Regions from separate parts of the Homo sapiens genome. Here region 2 is linked to region 1. Evidence: fine-mapped expression QTL. Tissue or cell type: whole blood. Region 1 holds a variant in brackets; the other region holds the start of a gene. All regions are shown on one strand. Distances are between the middles of the regions.

Region 1 (9,133 bases):
CAGCTACTTGGGAGGCTGAGGCAGGAGAATTGCTTGAACCCAGGAGGCGGAGGGTGCAGTGAGCCGAGATCGAACCACTGCACTCCAGCCTGGGCAACAGAGTGAAACTCCGTCTCAAAAAAAAAAAAAAATTTATATCTATATCTACATCTATCTATAAATAAAATAAAACAAGTTCTGTACTTGAGATTTCTTGTTTATCAGCACTTTTTACTTTAGTGGAAACTGGGTAACTCTGAGGATTGGTTATGGAATTCAAAGTGTTTTTGAAAGATCTATAGATGAGGAATAACCAGGCTACTAAGATGTTGCTTAAGAAATTGATGTTCTTAAAAATAATGTAACCCAAATAACTCTCTTAAAGCATGCCTGAGGCTGGTGATTTGGAAGAGGGAGGGGAGAGGATTAAAAAAAAGAGGAAAGCATGCTTGAGAAACTTGGGTTTTCTTTTTAAAACTATCATTTATTTATTAGTTTTAAGTATCAGATTCTATTTTTAAAGTTTTGAGGAAAAAAAAAAGGTGAGGCTGGGGAAAACATCTAGAAATAAAAGGGCCTCTAACATTAAGGAGAAGGCTGAGATAGGCTGAAACTATTTTGGGGGTATGAAAATTTCAGCCCCCTAATTTTAACCAGCAGCCCCTAAAGAGGAAAAAAGCTGAGCAGAAGCACTTTATCTACTCCACAGCTTATTAAATAAAAAATTGAGAGAATTCTAAATATAGGCCAAAGGGCATAATTTCAGGAGATACTCTCTATTAAAATAAAGTCACCATGTAAAGCACAATTCAGCTAACTTATGAAATCATCACAAGGAATGTACACTTATGAAATTATCACTGGATGTAATCAAAGATGCCAAAGTCCTCATATGGCTTAATAAGTTCAGTTTAGAAGAAAGCCCATTAAATTATCATTACCAAAAAAAGCCCATAATGCTTTCCTGGTAAGAGAATTTGAATGACTAATATCTTACCTGGAGAAGTCTTCAACCCAGTCATATTAAACATGTAGATGTTATCGTCTGTGCAATTAGCAAATAAAGTAGAGCCAGTGGAATCCAAAATCAGACTTGAATATCCTGGAAAAAGGAAACTTAAGTTAGCACGTCCTGATGATGGTGAGTAGATCTGAGGTTAAAATGTAGAGACAAAAATAGATCATTTCATAAGAATCATCATCAGAATTCTTTGTCCCCAAAATATACACAAACCAAAAACATTCTTCTGAGTTTTTATCTTTTGAACTTCACATATTAGAATTTTTCATATCAATGTTACTGGAAATTAGCCTTTTTTTTTTTTTTTAAACAAAAACTCTTATCTCCCCCAAAAGACCTATTAAAGGCTTACCAAGTTTTCGAGTGCTGCTACCTGGGTACAGGAAAGACTTGGATGCTATGGGTTCTTGTCGATAAGCAGTATAATTCTTACGTAAATCCCATACTTTGATTATCCTAAAAACCAAGGCAAATAAATATTTTGTAGACCTTCTTCCAACCCCAAACAACTTCAACTACACTAAATGTGAAATGACTTTTAATCTAACTCCTCTGGCACATTAACTAGGTACAGTAAGGATATTTCATTGGGAAACAAATTAAAGTATCTTATACTGTTGTCTCCAATATCAGGCTTATAATTCTGACAGAACGGAAACAGATGTGATTTGACCCAGTGATGGGTTACTGGAGTTTACTCTAAGAGAACGGAAAAGGAAGATGAAGGTTGAGTGCCGATAGTAATTGTTCCATTGTTTTTAGAAAATACACTTCCTAAGCCTTTAATATTCTGCATATATTTTTGATATCATAAGTAGCAAGTTCTGTCCCTGTGGTTATATCTCCATACATAACTCTTTAAATAATCTAAACAAATTGTTCTGTGAAATAAAGTATTTTTTCATTTCATCTATTGAGATAATTGTCTTAATCCTCTACTTCTAGTATAAAGGTAACTTGAAAACACAGACCTGCTATGAAATGACAGTATTCTTGGAAACAAACAGAGCAAGCTTTCACAGTCATTCACAAGCAGAACTAATAACCTTTAGATAATCCTTCATTCCTGCCTGAGAATTTGGTTCAGAGGGTTTTAGTGCCCAGAGGACACAATGGAAATCCTAGTTTGGTAAGCCATCATCTTTTAAATTAAAAATTTTAAGAGAAGGATGCCTTGAGAGATATAATAGGAAGGAAACTTAAAAAGAAAGAGTCTCCATTTGCATAGAATTAATATTCTACAACACAATCAACAAGCATCACAGAGCAGACTTATTTGGAAGCCAAGAATTCAGACTAATCATGGATGACAGGTATGTGAAAGTCATTAGACCTTACTATCATCAATCTAGTTAGATTACTCCCAGAAATGTCAATTACATCCCCAGAATCAGATTTCTTCTTTTAGGATATTCTTAAACCTGAAAAAGACAAAACCCAAAGTAACAGAAATTTTACTCTTCAAAATGAGAATTAGTGACTAAATTATATTGCATAAGGCAAGCAAGCTACCCAGCCAGCTTCTTTTCTAAGATAGCAACAGCAGCTACCACTGCTCTTATGTGCTAGACAATGTGCTAAGCGTGACACATGTATTCTTTCATTTAATTATCCAGCAAGAGTCCTTCAACTAGGTATTTTCCAATGTGATCTATAGCTCCTTTCCTCAGTTGGGGTACTTGCTATGTTGACAGTTGAAAGCACACACATTCAATTATAATGAGACTATGTGACTGCCTCATCACAATCTCATAAAAAAGATCTCGTCGGAAGAAAAAAGAAATAGACTCTTACCCATCCACAGCTCCTGCTGAGACTAAGGTATTCTCGTCTTGAAAGAGGACCACAGTAACACTTTGCTGGAAATCCTGATAGCACAAGAAAAGAAGAAGATTCTATCTTGGGCATCATAATCTTTACCATCAAGGGAACAAGGTGCTAAAAAACGACTTTTCTCCCCAGACTGACTTAGATGAAGTCTTGTCTAATGATCTCGATCAGATATATATGCTGACCAAGAGGTAATTTTAGCAAGGATCATTAAGTTTTAGTATACAGTGTTAATATTTCAACTTATACTCAAAAAACAAACTGGTGACTAAAAGATTTTGCTCGTCTGAGCCTACTGCATCTACTTAGACTCAGCCCTACTAATATGCTGTGTGTATCCTTAGGAAACTTATTTAACTTTCTTGTGCCAGTTTAATCTCTAAAATGTTGCTGTCTACCTAGATTATCATATAGGAGTATCAAAAGAATTATGAATAAAAGATTATTTCATGCCCTGAAAAAGAGGCCCAGTGGAGTCGTACCTCCTAATTGCTATTACTTAACAAGTTATCTTGGCTCAGAACCAGATTAAATGTCTGAAATGCTACTCGTTTTAACTTCATATGGCCTCTACTATCTGCTTCCATTCATGCTTGTGTCCTGTTCACGGTGTATAGTTTTAAGTCTTAATGTCTTAGCAGTCATACTTCCCCCAAAATATTAACTTGTACCCTACACACCAGGAATATGAAAAAAAAATTACATTAAAGTGAGAAAAAGGGCAATTTTTTAAAGAAAAAGGATATATTATGGGCATTGTTTGAGCTCTGACTGTAAGTTATTAGAGTGGTACTATGTTCTACCCATGTGTTTCTCAATATATTTAACAATATTTTGTCAAATGCTTAAAAATAAGCTGGCCAGGCGTGGTGGCTCACATCGGTAATCCCAGCACTTTGGGAGGCTCACGAGGTCAGGAGATTGAGGCTATCCTGGCTAACACGGTGAAACCCCGTCTCTACTAAAAAAACAAAAAATTAGCTGGGCGTGGTGGTGGGCACCTGTAGTCCCAGCTACTTGGGAGGCTGAGGCAGGAGAATGGTGTGAACCTGGGAGGCGGTGCTTGCAGTGAGCCAAGATTGCGCCACTGCACTCCAGCCTGGGTGACAGAGCGAGACTCTGTCTCAAAACAAAAAACATATTTTTCTGTAGTTTGTATTACGAAAACAACAGGTATTCTTTCCCCTTAGAAAACTGCATCACAGTACTTAATATGCTTCTTCAAACTACTCCTCCCCCACTTTTCCTAATGAATTCCACTATACTATAGGGGTGTGTTTGTGTGTGTGTGTTTGTGTCTGTGTGTGTAGAGAGATTTTTAGGGATGAGTAAGGTGAATTTTCAACATGTGCCTCAGGCAACTCTGATGCACACAGTATTTGAAGTGATGGCTATCTCAATTACCCTGATTTGATCATTATACATAGTGTACCCCCCAAAATATGTAAAATTATGTTATCAATTTTTTAAAATGTAGATATTGAAATTGTAAAAAAAAAAACCACTTTCTGCTTAATGGCATGAGACAACATCTTATGTTTAATTCAATCTAATTCTTTAAAACCAAAATAAATTTAAAGATATTTATCAACGAGGCTACATATATTTTAATTCCATCAATAATATAGGTAAATGGCATTATAATTCAGAAGAACCAAAAATTAAAATTTGAGAACCACAAATGTAGGTACTGAATAAGCAATAAACCACTGATATCAAATGAGAATCATGAAGATTCTCATTCACTTAATCAATAGCCTCCCATTTATTCTATCCTACAGATAAGATCTGCACACATGTATACATCTGTAAAACCTTACCACAGAAGGAGCAAGTCCTTTTGAATTCTGTTTCTTCTTGGGTTTTGAAGGGGTTTGCTTGTCTGAGGTATTGTGAGCTCCACTGATTTGATTCACTTGCCTATAAAACCCATCTGAAAGATATTCCAAGGAAATTTAGGTTTCAGGATTCTTACATGCTGAATATAACATGTGTAAATAAAACTTCAATATTAAGTAATTTTTGACCAAGTTGGTGAAATTAGAAGCCAGCAGAGCCAGCTGCACTACATCTCCTGTGGTGAGACTATAATGTATAAAAAGGGAGAGATGTTTATAACAGCTTTAATAATTGCCAAAACTTGGAAACAACCAAGATGTCCTTCAGTAGGTGAATGGATAAACTTTGGTTCATCCAGACAATGGAATATTATTCAGCACTGGAAAGAAATGAGCTTGATAAAGCCATAAAATGACATGGAGGAAATGTGACTGGGGGAAGTAATAAGATCAGTGGTTGCCAGGGCTTAGAGGGAGGTAGGGATGAATAACTGGAGCACAGAGGATTTCTAGAGTAGTGAAACTATTGTGTATGATGCTACAATGGTGGACGCA[C/T]GTCATTACACATTTGTCAATATCCACAGAATGTGTAATACTAAGAATATATAACACTGATGTAAATTATAAACTCTGAGTGACAGCATGTGTTGACATAGGTTAACTGATTATAACAAATGTACCACTCAGGCACAGGATGTTGTCAGTGGGGAAGTCTGTGTGTGGGCAGGGCAGGGGCTATATGGGAACTCTCTGTACTTTCTGCTCAGTTTTGCTGTGAACCTAAAACTGCTCTACAAAATAAGGTTTATTAAAATTTTTCTAAATAATTTTATTATTTATTTCAAAATAGCTAGAAGAATGGGAGGCTGAGGCAGGCAGATTGCCTGAGGTCAGGAGTTCCAGATCAGCCTGGCCAACATGGTGAAATCCTGTCTGTACTAAAAATACATAACTAGCTGGGAGTGGTGGCATGCACCTGTAATCCCAGCTACTTGAGAGGCTGAGGTAGGAGAATTACTTGAACCCAGGAGGCGGAGGTTGCAGCGAGATGAGATCACGCCACTGCACTCCAGCCTGGGTGACAGAGTGAGACTCCGTCTCCAAAAAAAAAAAAAACAAGAAACAAAAAACCAGAAGAGAAGAATTGTAATGTTCCCAACACAAAGAAAAGATAAATGTTTGAGGTGATGGATATCCCAATTATCCTGATTTGATCATTTCATGTTCTATATATGTATCAAGATATCACATATACCCCTGAAAATATGTAGAACTATGTTACCAATTTTTTAAAATGCAGACACAAAAAAAAATTTTAATAAATTAACTAAAAGTGAACAGTGAGATAATCATCGTCTGCTTAATAGCATCATGAGACAACCATGAGCTTATGTTTAATTCAATCTAATTCTTTAAAATCAGGCTGGGCCTGGTGACTCACGCCTGTAATTTCAGCACTTTGGGAGGCCAGGGTGGGCAGATCACTTGAGGTCAGGAGTTTGAGACCAGCCTGGCCAACATAGTGAAACCCCATTTCTATTAAAAAAATACAAAAATTAGCCAGGCATGGTGGCGGGTGGCTGTAATCCCAGCTACTCAGGAGGCTGAGCTAGAGGAATTGCTGGAACCCAGCGGGTGGGGAGTGCAGTGAGCCAAGTTCACGCCACTGCACTCCAGCCTGGGTGACAGAGACTCCATCTCAAAAAAAAAAAAAATAATAATAATAAAATAAAAAAAATTCTTAAAAACCAAAATAAAGACATTTACCAGTGAGGCTGCGTATTAATATTTTTAAGTCCATCAATAATGTGGGTAAATGGCATTATAATTCAGAAGACAATATGAGATAAATACATGAGTGTAATACTTGTAACAGTGACACTCATGTATTTATCACTCAGGACACTCAGTGAAGATCCTGAGATCTGGAACAGTGAGCAGAAATGGGAAATTATGAGTACATGCCCCCTGGTGGTAATCAGATGAAATCACTAACTCTTTCACTCAAAATTAAGTACAGGGTAATCCCAAATCTCTCAAAATTAAAATAGATCTAGATAACCTTTTTTGTTGCACCTGGTATCCCAGACCATAATGTTGCCATCTCTTCCACCCGTACAGAATACAGCTGTGGGGAAATAAACAGATTATTAAGAGGTTAACAAAACCAGTCAATGACACATATATTTCAGTTTACATTTTGTAGACTATCTATTATGTGCTAGGTACTGTATCTGTCACTGGAGATCAAACATTTAAAAATATATGGCTCAATAACAAATAGGAAAAAGGATTATGAAGAGCTTGAGATGCTAATGTTGAACCAAAACTTCATAGAATCACCCCTCTGTAAATTTTTTAAAACCCATATAAAATATATAGTACAGTTGTAATAAGAATAACAATCAAGAGTCAAAATACAGAGTGCTTCTTATTCTAAATGTTAGCTACTATCCCGCGTGTTTTATAAAAATTATCTCAATCCTTGCTATCAACCTTATTAGGTAAGTACCAAGAGAGGCACAGAGAGGATAAGTAACTTGTAAAGGTATTCCTGGCAGTATGAATCCAGAGCTTACACTCCAAACCTCTAAACTGTATTGGCTCAGTATAAAAATATGGACCAGATCCATATGAAGTTTGTTAAAGAGGTTGCCTGGGATGCAATGGGATTGGAAAAGGCACTATAGGAGAACTTCAATTTATCTGTAATGTTTTATTCTTTAAAATTAAGCCAGAAAAAAACCCTGCTTCCTGTGTGAAAGAGTGAGCACTTAAACTAATCCACTTGCATTAGTTGTACATGGGATAAAACACAAAAACAGCTACCTGAGGGCTCTGTGGAAACTGAATGAAAACATGCAATTTTTCTTACTGATACATAGTATTTTACATATTTATGGGGTATATGTGATATTTTGATGCCTGCATAGAATGTGTTATGATCAAGTCAGGGTATCTGGGGTATCCATCACCTTGTATTCATCATTTCTATGTGCTGGGAACATTTTAAGTTCTCTCTTCTAGCTGCTTGAAATATACAATAATTTGTAAGGTGACAATAGTCAGGTATCGAACAATGGAACTTACACCTTCTATCTAACTTTATGCTTGTATCCATCAAGCAACCTTTCTTCATTCCCCCCTCACACCCACTCACTTTCCAGCCTCTGGTTATTTATCATTCTACTCTCTACCTCCATGATACTGTTTTAGCACCCACATATAAATGGGAACATGTGAAATTTATCTTTTGTGCCTGGCTTGTTTAACATAATGTTGATGTGAATGACATTTCCTTATGGCCAAATAGTATTCAATTGTGTATATACTACATTTTTAAAAACTCTATTTGTTCGTTAATAGACAGGTTGATTCCATATCTTGGCTATTGTGAATAGTGCTGCAACAATGTGACTGCAGTTATTCCTTTGATATACTGTTTGTCTTTGAATCAATACCCAATAATGAGACTGCTAGATCAATGGTAATTCTATTTGTTTTTTTTTTTTTGAGAAATCTTACTGTTTTCCATAGTGACTGGACTAATTTACATTTCCACCAACAGTGTACAAGAGTTCTCTTTTCTCCACATCCTTGCCAGCATGTTTTGTTTAATAATAGCCATTCTAACTGGGTTAAGATGATATCTCACTGTGGTTATTAGTCATGTTGAGCAGTTTTTCACATACCTGTTGGCCATTTGTATGTCTTCTTTCGCGAAATGTCTATTCATGGTCTTTGCCTACTTTTTTTTTTTTTTTGAGACAGGATCTCACTCTATCACTCAGGCTGGAGTACAGCGATGTAATCACCGCTCAGGGCTCAGTGATCCTCTCATCTCAGCCCCACCAAGTAGCTGGGACTACAGTAGTACACCACCATGCCCAGTTAATTTTTTTGTATTTCTTTGTAGAGACAGTTTTGGCACATTGCCCAGTCTGTGTTTGCCTACTTTTTAATATTTTGTCTTTTCTACTGTTGAGTTGTTCGAGTTCCTTGTATACATTCTACATATTATTCCCTTATCAGATAAATAGTTTGCAAATACTTCCCATTCAAAAAGTTTTGGCATGCAGAAGCTTTTTAGTTTAGTATAGTCTAGTTTATCTATTTGTTCTTGTTGTCTGTGCTTTTGAGTTCTTGGCCAGCCATAAAATCTTTGCCTAAACCAATATCCTGAAGTGTTTTCCCTATGTTTTCTTCTAGTAGTTCTATTGTTTCAGGTCTTACATTTAAGTCTTTATACTCCATCTTGATTTTTTTTTTTTTTTTTTGAGACTGAGTCTCACTGTGTCAACCAGGGTGGAGTGCAGTGGTGCTATCTTGGCTCATTGCAATTTCTGCCTCCTGTGCTCAAGCGATTCTCATGCCTCAGCCTTCCAAGCAGCTGGGACTACAGGCGCGCCTACCACGTCAAGCTAATTTTTTGTATTTTAGTAGAGGTGGGGTTTTGCCATGTTGC
Region 2 (9,133 bases), 29 kb after region 1:
TTAATCATAGGTATGTGTCTGTATAGTAAAAAACACAGCATACATAGGGTTGGGTCTTGGAACATATCCTTCAAGGATAAGGAGGTACTACTGTACTCAACTACGATATACAGTCATATGCCATGTAATGGCATTTTGGCCAAAGACAGACCGCATACACAATGGTAGTCTTACAACATTATAATGGAGCTTAAAAATTCCTATTGTGTCTTAGTTTTTAACAAAAGGTTTGAAAAGTTAAGAAAAGAAAAACATTTAAAATAAAAAAACTTATAGAATAAGAATATGAAGAAATAAAATATTTTGTACAATTATACAATGTGTCTGTGCTTTATGCTACCTGTTACCACAAGGGTCAAAAAGTTAAAAAATTTAAGATGTTTGTAAGTTTAAAAGTTACAGTAAGCTAAGGTTAATTTATTATTGAAGAAAGTATTTTTTAATCAATTTAATGCAGCCTAAGTATAGAGTGTTTATAAAGTCTACAGTAGTATAATGTCCCAGGTCTTCGTGCTGACTGACTACTCACTCACTGATTCACTCACAGCAACCCCCAGTCCTGCAAGCTCCCATTCATAGTAAGCACCCTCCACAGGTGTTACCATTTTTTATCTTTTATATCCTATTTTTACTGAACCTTTTCTATGTTTAAATACACAAATACTTACCATTGTGTTACAGTTGCCTACGGTATTCAATACAGTAATATGCTACACAGGTTTATAGCCTAGGAAAAATATATAGCTTAGGTGTGTAGTAGTTACACTATCTAGCTTTGTGTTTATACTCTGTGATGTTTGCACAATGATAAAATCACCTAATGATGCATTTCTCAAAATGTTATCTCCATTTATAAGCAATTGGATGACTATATACGCATTTCTAAAACTCACCTGTCTGAAAAACCTGATGTCTCTGAGAAGGTTGAGGTACCACTTTTTCCCTTTCCCTTCATCACTTCCTTTCTTCCACTTTATAAAAGAAAGGCATTCCCGTGCCCCAATCTTAAACCTTGCACTGATCCAAAGAATAAAAACTTTTGGGTATCAAATATTTTTAAATAAAAACAAATAAACTGGTGGAACCTTAACTAAGAGATAATTAAATAATTCCTTCAATAAAGGGACCATAAACACCCAAATTCATCTCTTTAAAAAGATGGACTTCCAATAAAATTTTACTTTTGGTTAATAATTATCAAAATTGGTAATCTATATTGTTTTAATCAATCATATAGTACTAATAATTGAATTGAAAATTCAATCCATAAAGAAGTTTTAATACTTGGAGGCTTATGACAGAAAACAGCAATTTAAACACATTTTTTGACACAGAAGGGTATGACAGAGTGATCAGTAAAAGAGCTTTTCAAGCATAAAATTAAATTACATTAGGAGAAATTCTGTAGGAGAAATGAAATGGAAATAAATTCAAGAGGAAAAAGCAGCTATATGGAATGTCCAGCAGATAAAGAGGAGTTTGTATTTTTCTAAAAAATGGATGATGTGATTATCAAATCACTATAGTATTTAAATTATATTAGATACACTTAAAGGAGTGATATAGCATTTTTATTTTTAAAATGTCAATATTCCCAATATGGTCAGAAATTATATTCTTTGCATTTGTTTAAGTTTATAATAAAAACTTTTAGATATCAATTTAAAAATACACAGAAGAGTAATCAGATTTCCATTTTAGAAGGATCATTAGCAGCAATGTGGAGAATAAACCGAAGACAGACAAACTAGGAGGCCATCTGGGAGACTTCTTACAATCCAGACAAGAAGGCATTAGGGCCCAACCTAGGGAAATGGAATAGTAAAAATAGAACACATCCAGCATACAGTAAAGATGCATAATCATAACAGATAAAGAAGAGAGGATGGATTCAAGAGATTTTAACGAAATGTTTTGAATGTGTAACTGTGAGGAAGATGAAGAAGTCTTTAATTTACTCAGGTTTCTGGCAGGTTTAAATAATGAGGCCACTCTCTAAAATTGGTAATATTGCAGGTTTGGGGGAAAAGCTGAGTTCAGTTTTGGGTATTTGAGTTTGAGATGCTTGTGGGATTGACCGTCTAGGTGCTAATCAACCCACACAGCTTTTATAGAAATGAATCTCAGGTACAGGAAGTCTTCCAATAACATAATTTTGTACAATGTCATTTCGTTATACTGTTCATGAGGAAAAAATCAATTCCTGTTTGAGGCCATTGGCCGTGTGGAGTTTGTACATGCTCTTCCCATGTTCATAGGGGTTTTCTCCAGGTACTCTGGTTTCCTCCCACATGCCAAAGATGTGTATGTTAGGTTCACTGGTGTGTCTACATGGTCCCAGTAGACAATGAGTGTGTGTGAGTGCTTCCTGTGATGAAATAGTGTCTGGTCTAGAGCTGGTTTCCACCTTGTACCATGAGCTGCCAGGATAGGCTCCGGGCACCCACAGCCCTGAGCTGGAATAAGTGTGTCAGAAAATGAATGAATACAAATCATTGTAAAATAAAAATGGGTAAACTTTACAATAATCATACAAATGAATGACAATAAACGATTTGGTATGAAAGGGCTCAGTGAGCTGCCATATTTGTGATTGTTTTTGACCTGGGTGGTGGTAGGAGGTGCTCCTTCCAATTTTCACTTTGCAAACATTTATTCCTTGATTTAGCCCACCACCACTATGACCGAGGTCACTCGCTGATACACCAAAACTTGGATAATTATCTCACCTGTTTTTATTAATCTTTCTCAAATATATGTATAGCACACAATTATTTCAACATTTAATATTAAAAGTACTTTGAGTCTTTCTTTAGAAGTTCGGTGGTGTTTGTGTGACCAAAATATGCCACTGAAACAATTCTTATTTATATCAAGTAGCCTATGGTAGAGTTAGTTTAGTTATACACTGTTTTCCCTAAAGTCACAGTTTCCAAGAGCCTATCTAGACATTAAGTGAGGACTTACTATATAAGTAACAGAAGGTTGTATGTATGTAGAAGTGGAAGAAGCCCTGGTTGTGGCTGTGATCATCCAAAGGAGTAGGTAGAAGAAGAAAAGGGGTCAAGGATGGAACACCAACACTGAAGAGGAAAGGAGATGATTCTATAGATTTCATATAATAACGAATGAATTTCAGTGACTATTATGTAACAACGAATGAGTACTTGAGAATAGGAAAGAGGGAAGGGAAAGGTAAACACATGGAGAATTAGGAGAAAATCTGTCACAAAATAGAGGCTGAACAGCTCCCCCAGAACACACATATAGTAAGGTGTGGAAGTATAATAAAACCCAGGCAGTTTAACTTCAAAGACAGAGTTCTTAGCCACTGTGCGTACTGTCACTCTTAAACAGAGGACAAAGAAGTTACTCAAACAAGGTCCCAGGAGAGACAGAAAGAGGAGCATTTAAGTATAATTACAAAGATTATCTAAGAGGGAAATAAATAAGGATGGTATAAAGTTTCAGACTGCTAGCAGGAAGTTGAGGGACTACTTCTCAGTCTCTTTCTCAATATTATTTTCCTAGACTCATCGCTGAATATAAAAATTCCCTTCTCAGGTTCGTTTTCCACATAGTTTCAAGGGGAAAAAGAACCTCTGGCTATAGTCGACCTTCACATGAGTGAGATTTTATTTCTGTCCAAGGTTAATCTGGGTAGTTAGCTCCCTTATCTGAAACTTACCAAAAAGTTTAAGTTGATGACATCCAAATCTAACCTCAAATCTCTTATTGCCAATGTTTTAGCGTAAGAAAATAAGTTAGATTTCTACGTATTAACATGGGAATACGTTCAACTTATACCATTAAAGTGAAAAAACTGGACGTTTTGATCCGATTTCTGAAAATAATAGGTATTACCTCTAGCGTCGAAAACATCTGGAATAATATACTTCAATCTATTAACAGGGGTCATCTCTGGCGGATGTGGTTACAGGCATCTTTCACTCTATAATTTAAATTTTTATGACCGTGTAGTAAACGGGGAAAATAAGATTTTGTTCCTGTTAGAAGCAGATATCCTGTCTTCTCTGCTTGACTGAGTTCCTTAACAGCGGGTCATATTCACTGGTATATACCTATAGCACATAGCTGGGCTCACTAAGATTCTACAACAAACGAATGAATTAATCAATGATTAGGAGTTTTGAGCATCTCAAATAACCGTTGAAGGAAACATATACACACAAATGCATGCATTTTCCCGTTAACGCGCAATGGAGATGTAAGCTGTAAGGGGCCTTGGAAGGCAGTTATTTCGACGTCCCTGCCTACGTTACGATTTTAAAAGCCCGATTACGATTACAAGTGTCCCGAGGGGATGAAAGTACAGCTTTCTTTAGTAGTCCCTGCTAACACTAATTTACCCTTGCCATGGGAGAACTCAGAAGCTGAGTTCAGAATTGGAGTCGGCCCTGGTCGGAGGTGGCGTGTGTTTCGGGGGAAATGAATTCCGCCAGCTCCGAGCAGCGGTTGGGACCGTTACTCACCATTTCTCAGGACGCCAAGCTGGGGCTGGCGGAGCACCGAATTGAAGAGCATCAGGGTCGGAGGAAAAGCCTCAGCTGAGAGAAAAGTCGTAGAAATGCCTCCAAGTTCAGCAGAAATCGCAGCTTGCGCCTCTCACAACACAAATCGTTATCGCCTCCAACTCCCGCCACTGTAAGCCCCGGCCGCCAAACTCCGCGCCAAACTGACGTCACGCTCTCTGATTGGCTTCCGAGCGACGTCCGGGCGCCTCAGAGTCATTTCCCCCTTCGGATCCCCGCCTCCTTTTCTCCCAGCCGCGGGAACCTGGAGTCCAAGAGCTCCTTGAGCGCCTGCGCAGGGGGTAGCAGAGGCGCGGACAAACCGCGGGGTGACCAGGGCGCATGCGTAACAGGGCTTGACAGCGCGCGGAAGAAAAACCAGCAAGAAGGCGGCGGGGGAAGATGGCGGTCCTGGGGTAGAGTTTGCAAGCTTTCTGACTAGGCTAGTCGAGTAACTATTCGGGTCATGGCGTCAAACTCAACTAAGTCTTTCCTGGCAGATGCCGGCTATGGCGAACAGGAACTGGATGCCAACTCTGCCCTTATGGAATTGGACAAAGGTATTCGAAAGAGAGGGCTGAATGGGTGAAACAGGCGTGGGGGGAAGTGGCGCCACCAGGTGGTGGTTGCTTTGGGAGAAGACGGATAGGCGCATGCGCATGTCTTCGCTGGGCGGGGAGCGCCTGTGCTTTTGCTGGGGCGTGGGCTTTGACCCCTTCGGGAGGTTGCGGGAAATTTGCAGGATTGTGTGACTGGCCTTATACCGGCTAAACAAGTAGCGAGCTCTAGTGAGAGGCCCGTTTTGACCACTTGAGGGAGCAGTCCCCCGATTTTCTAAGCAGTGACAGTGGCTAGTTTCTAAGAGACACTGCAAAGAAATTGTGAAATTGGTTTTCAGTCTGTTCAGTTGAGACCAGGTCTTCATGAAATGTGCTGAATAGTAATCTTGCACCGACTTGACAGCGATTCATTTGATTTCCATAGCTCTGTTACCTGCGGGTTACAAGGCAGGCTAAACCTGGCCAAGACCATAAAAAAGCAAGGGCCCTGCTCATTCTCTGCGGACAAGTTCCAGGAGTTCTGTTGCCGTACAGGGAGCAGCTTGGTGTAGAGGGAGCTTTGGGGTTACACTGAGTTAAGTTTCAATGCCGCTGATTTTATGATTAACTTCATCTAGCCTCGGCTTGTCGTCTGCAAAGTGGGTACAGTACCATTGAGCCGGCAGAATTGTATTAAGTGACTTAATGGTATGCAAAAGAAGCATTTAGTAAATGCTGAAGAGATATACCTCCCTTCTTAGATGTGGATATGGGAGGCAAGGTCGGAAATTTGTTAGTAAAGAACTCGACTAGTAATATGAAACCTTTATTTCATATTGAGGATTTTTATTGTACGGGAAACATTTCGGCAGCTGGTATACAATTAAATCTTGATTAATCGTAGCCAATATATAATGTTGGAGAACTGGACTAGAACTCAGAAGGGTTTGAGCCACTTCCCAGTTTTCTGAGTTGGACATGTCTATTAACTTTTTTGGGACTCTTTTTCTGTTTATTTTTTAAACTGTGAATATTTTTAGTGGGTTAGTCTAAATAAGAGTTTCTCAGGCTCTTAAAAAAGCTTTTACCTTATTTTGATAAACACAAAAATTTCACAGCCCCCTAATGGGATATTCCTTTGGTTGAGTCTCAGTATCTTTAGTGCACCCCCATCAACCAAGAAAATTATGTTGAACTTTTCCTTCTCTTACCAAATCTTTAGGGGTTTTCTCCTCTGAAAAAAAAAAGTATAATACTAAATGTGTTTTTCTCTTTTTTTTTGGAGACAGAGTGTTGCTCTGTTGCCCAGGCTAGAGTGCAGTGGCGCCATCTCGGCTCACTGCAACCTCCGCCTCCCGAGTTCAAACGGTTCTCCTGCCTCAGCCTCCCGAGTAGCTGGAATTACAGGCGCCCGCCACCACGCCCGGCTAATTTTTGTATTTTTAGTATAGACGGGGTTTCACCATGTTGGCCAGGCTGGTCTCCAACTCCTGACCTCAGGTGATCCGTCCGCCTCGGCCTTCCAAAGTGCTGGGATTTACAGGCATGAGCCACCGCGCCCGGCCTTAAATGTGTTTTTCAAACACTTTCCTCCTCATTCTGATACATTTCTTTCTTATTCCTCAGTGAAAGTTACAGGTCAGGATAATATCTAATATCCCTACGAGTTCTAAGGACATTTTCTACCATTCTGGTGCAGCTGAGCTTGTCTCATGCTGACAATAGGATAGTGGTTGTGGAACAGGGATAAAGATGGGGCACTGAAGAGGAGTCTAGAATGGTTTAATTCCTCAAATTTTGCAGTTGTAAGAAAAAAACCACAATTTTTCCTTTTTAAAGAAGAGTTGAAATGAAAATATTTTATATCTATAGGAAAGAAATCAGGTGTCAATCTTAGACACAGAGTAAGTGATCATTTGCACTCCTCCCAGCAATGCCTGGCGTGAGTGTTTTACAGGTGAATCTCAGGCTCAGAAAGATGACTTGTTCTTTTTCATCTCATCTGTAGTAACTTTTAAAGCTGTTAGGAAATTAAGTTATAGAAATAGCCAGTTTCGTGTAGAATATAGTTGAGTATTTTAAATATTGAGTCATTTCATCTTGTACCTGTTAAAGTATTTCTGTTTTGTGAGCTAAAGGTCAGAAGGCTACAAGTTCCAACTCTTTTTTTCGTTCCCAAACTCCAAGGAATACTGTTTCTGAAATATCTCCCCCACCTCAGCATACACACTCAGACACATGACTTATTTGATCGGGCTTTGTACTAGGAACATGGCAGTTAATGAGACAAAACTCCTGCCCCTATAGAGCTTACATTCTAGACAGCAGATGCAGACACTCCGCAAATATAGCAAACGTGACAGTTAGTGATACATATTATAAAGGAAAATGAAGCAATGAAAGGGACTGGAGAAAACTGATCTGGGGCTGGAGTTGATTTCTTATTTTATGAAGTATAGGCAAGAAAGACCTCCTCAATCAAGTGGAAGAACAGCAAGTACAAAGGCCCTGAGGTAGAAGCCTCCTTTGCATGCAGTTATCTGGAGCAAAGTAATAGGCAATGAGTATAGAAAGATAACCAGAGTCAGTCGGGCGTGGTGGTTCACGCCTGTAATCCCCGCACTTTGGGAAGCTGAGGCGGGCGGATCACGAAGTCAGGAGATCGAGACCATCCTGGCTAACATGGTGAAACCCTGTCTCTACTAAACAAAATACAAAAAATTAGCCAGGCGTGGTGGTGGGCACCTGTAGTTCCAGCTACTTGGGAGGCTGAGGCAGGAGAATGGCGTGAACCTGGGAGGCGGGGCTTCCAGTGAGCCGAGATCACACCACTGCACTCCAGTCTGGGCAACAGAGCAAGACTGTCTCGAAAAAAAAAAAAGAAAGATAACCAGAGTCCCGTTCAGGTAGGGCCGTGCAAGCCATCAAAAGGACTGGCTTTCATTCTGAGTGAGAAAGGAAACCATGGAGGATTTTCAGCAGGTGTGTGACATGATCTGACTTTCCTTTGAAAAGTATCAGTCTGGCTACTGTGCTGAGAATAGACTGAAGTGGGGAGGGTCAGGGACCCAAGTAGGGAGACCAATGAGAAGGCAACTATAACAATCCAGGGAAAAGAAAATAGTGGCTTAGACCGAGATGGTGACACTGAAAATGTGTGAAGTGCTGAGATTCTGGATATACTTTCAAAGTAGAGCCAAGAAGATTTGCTAATGGATTAGATGAGGATATAAGAGTAAGTGGTCAAGAAAACTTAGAGGTTTTTGGTATGAGCTACTGGGAGGATGTATGTATTGTTTACTGAAATCAAATCAGTTTGGGTCATGTTAAATTTGAGATGTCTCTTAGACATCCAAATGGAGATGATTAGTCAGTTAGGCATAAGATGTAACCTTTGAACGCTATTTTAAAGAAATATTTTGTGGCACTGGTGTCCTTAGAAACACACTCAGGAAATGCTGCCATTCATAACCTGTTATATATTTATAACTGTTGTACTTTATTCTGAGCCTTTTGAGCAAGCATTGGCAGTAAGCTGATTGTTTCTGATCTCTATAGGAATAAGTGAATACTATTTTGAAGCTGACTCAATTCCATTACTTTAGGATGTAGTTAGTAACAGGAAAATCATCCTTCATGTGATAGCCATTCATTTACTCAACAGATATTTACTGACCACCTGCATTGTCTCAGGCTCTATACTCAGACTAGGGGCTATGTTGGCAAACAAGACATCTTTAAGGAGATTGCATACAAATGTAAGGAGATGGACAATGCTAGATCAAATGTGGTGCCGTTAGTCAGGACAAGAAGTTGGATTTTGTGCAGAGTGCAATGGGAAGGCATTGAAAGTTGTAGGCTGATGGCCATGCTGCTTGAGCTTCTGTAAGACTGAGCATACACAAGCAGAGTTAAGTGTCATAATCAAATACATTACAGCTTATGTTTATCTGACACATTTCATGATATGATCATTACTATACATAATTGGCAATATAAAGGATGCATCTCACAAAAATTAGTGTAACTTTTTCACTAATATAATTTCTTAGTCTAAACATT

What was found. PIP is the estimated chance that this variant, and not a neighbour inherited with it, causes the effect.
Region 2: it holds the start of INTS7, and the variant in region 1 is fine-mapped to the expression of INTS7 in whole blood (TOPMed, PIP 0.97).

Annotation. Positions count from the first base shown.
Region 1 is chr1:212,060,547-212,069,679 of GRCh38, reverse strand. DTL (denticleless E3 ubiquitin protein ligase adapter) reads right to left here. Exons shown (of 15, transcript NM_016448.4): 6 at 6,731-6,796; 7 at 4,651-4,763; 8 at 2,795-2,868; 9 at 1,353-1,456; 10 at 977-1,081. Among named protein-coding and RNA genes, the nearest start is that of MIR3122, 12 kb to the left of the region's middle. The variant C/T (reference allele first, on the strand shown) is at 5,224.
Region 2 is chr1:212,031,303-212,040,435 of GRCh38, reverse strand. INTS7 (integrator complex subunit 7) reads left to right here and starts at 4,879. Exons shown (of 20, transcript NM_015434.4): 1 at 4,879-5,092. The coding sequence starts at 4,999. DTL (denticleless E3 ubiquitin protein ligase adapter) reads right to left here and starts at 4,688. Exons shown (of 15, transcript NM_016448.4): 1 at 4,494-4,688. The coding sequence starts at 4,545. RefSeq lists enhancers at 3,869-4,403, 4,419-4,658, 4,404-4,940, 4,819-5,028.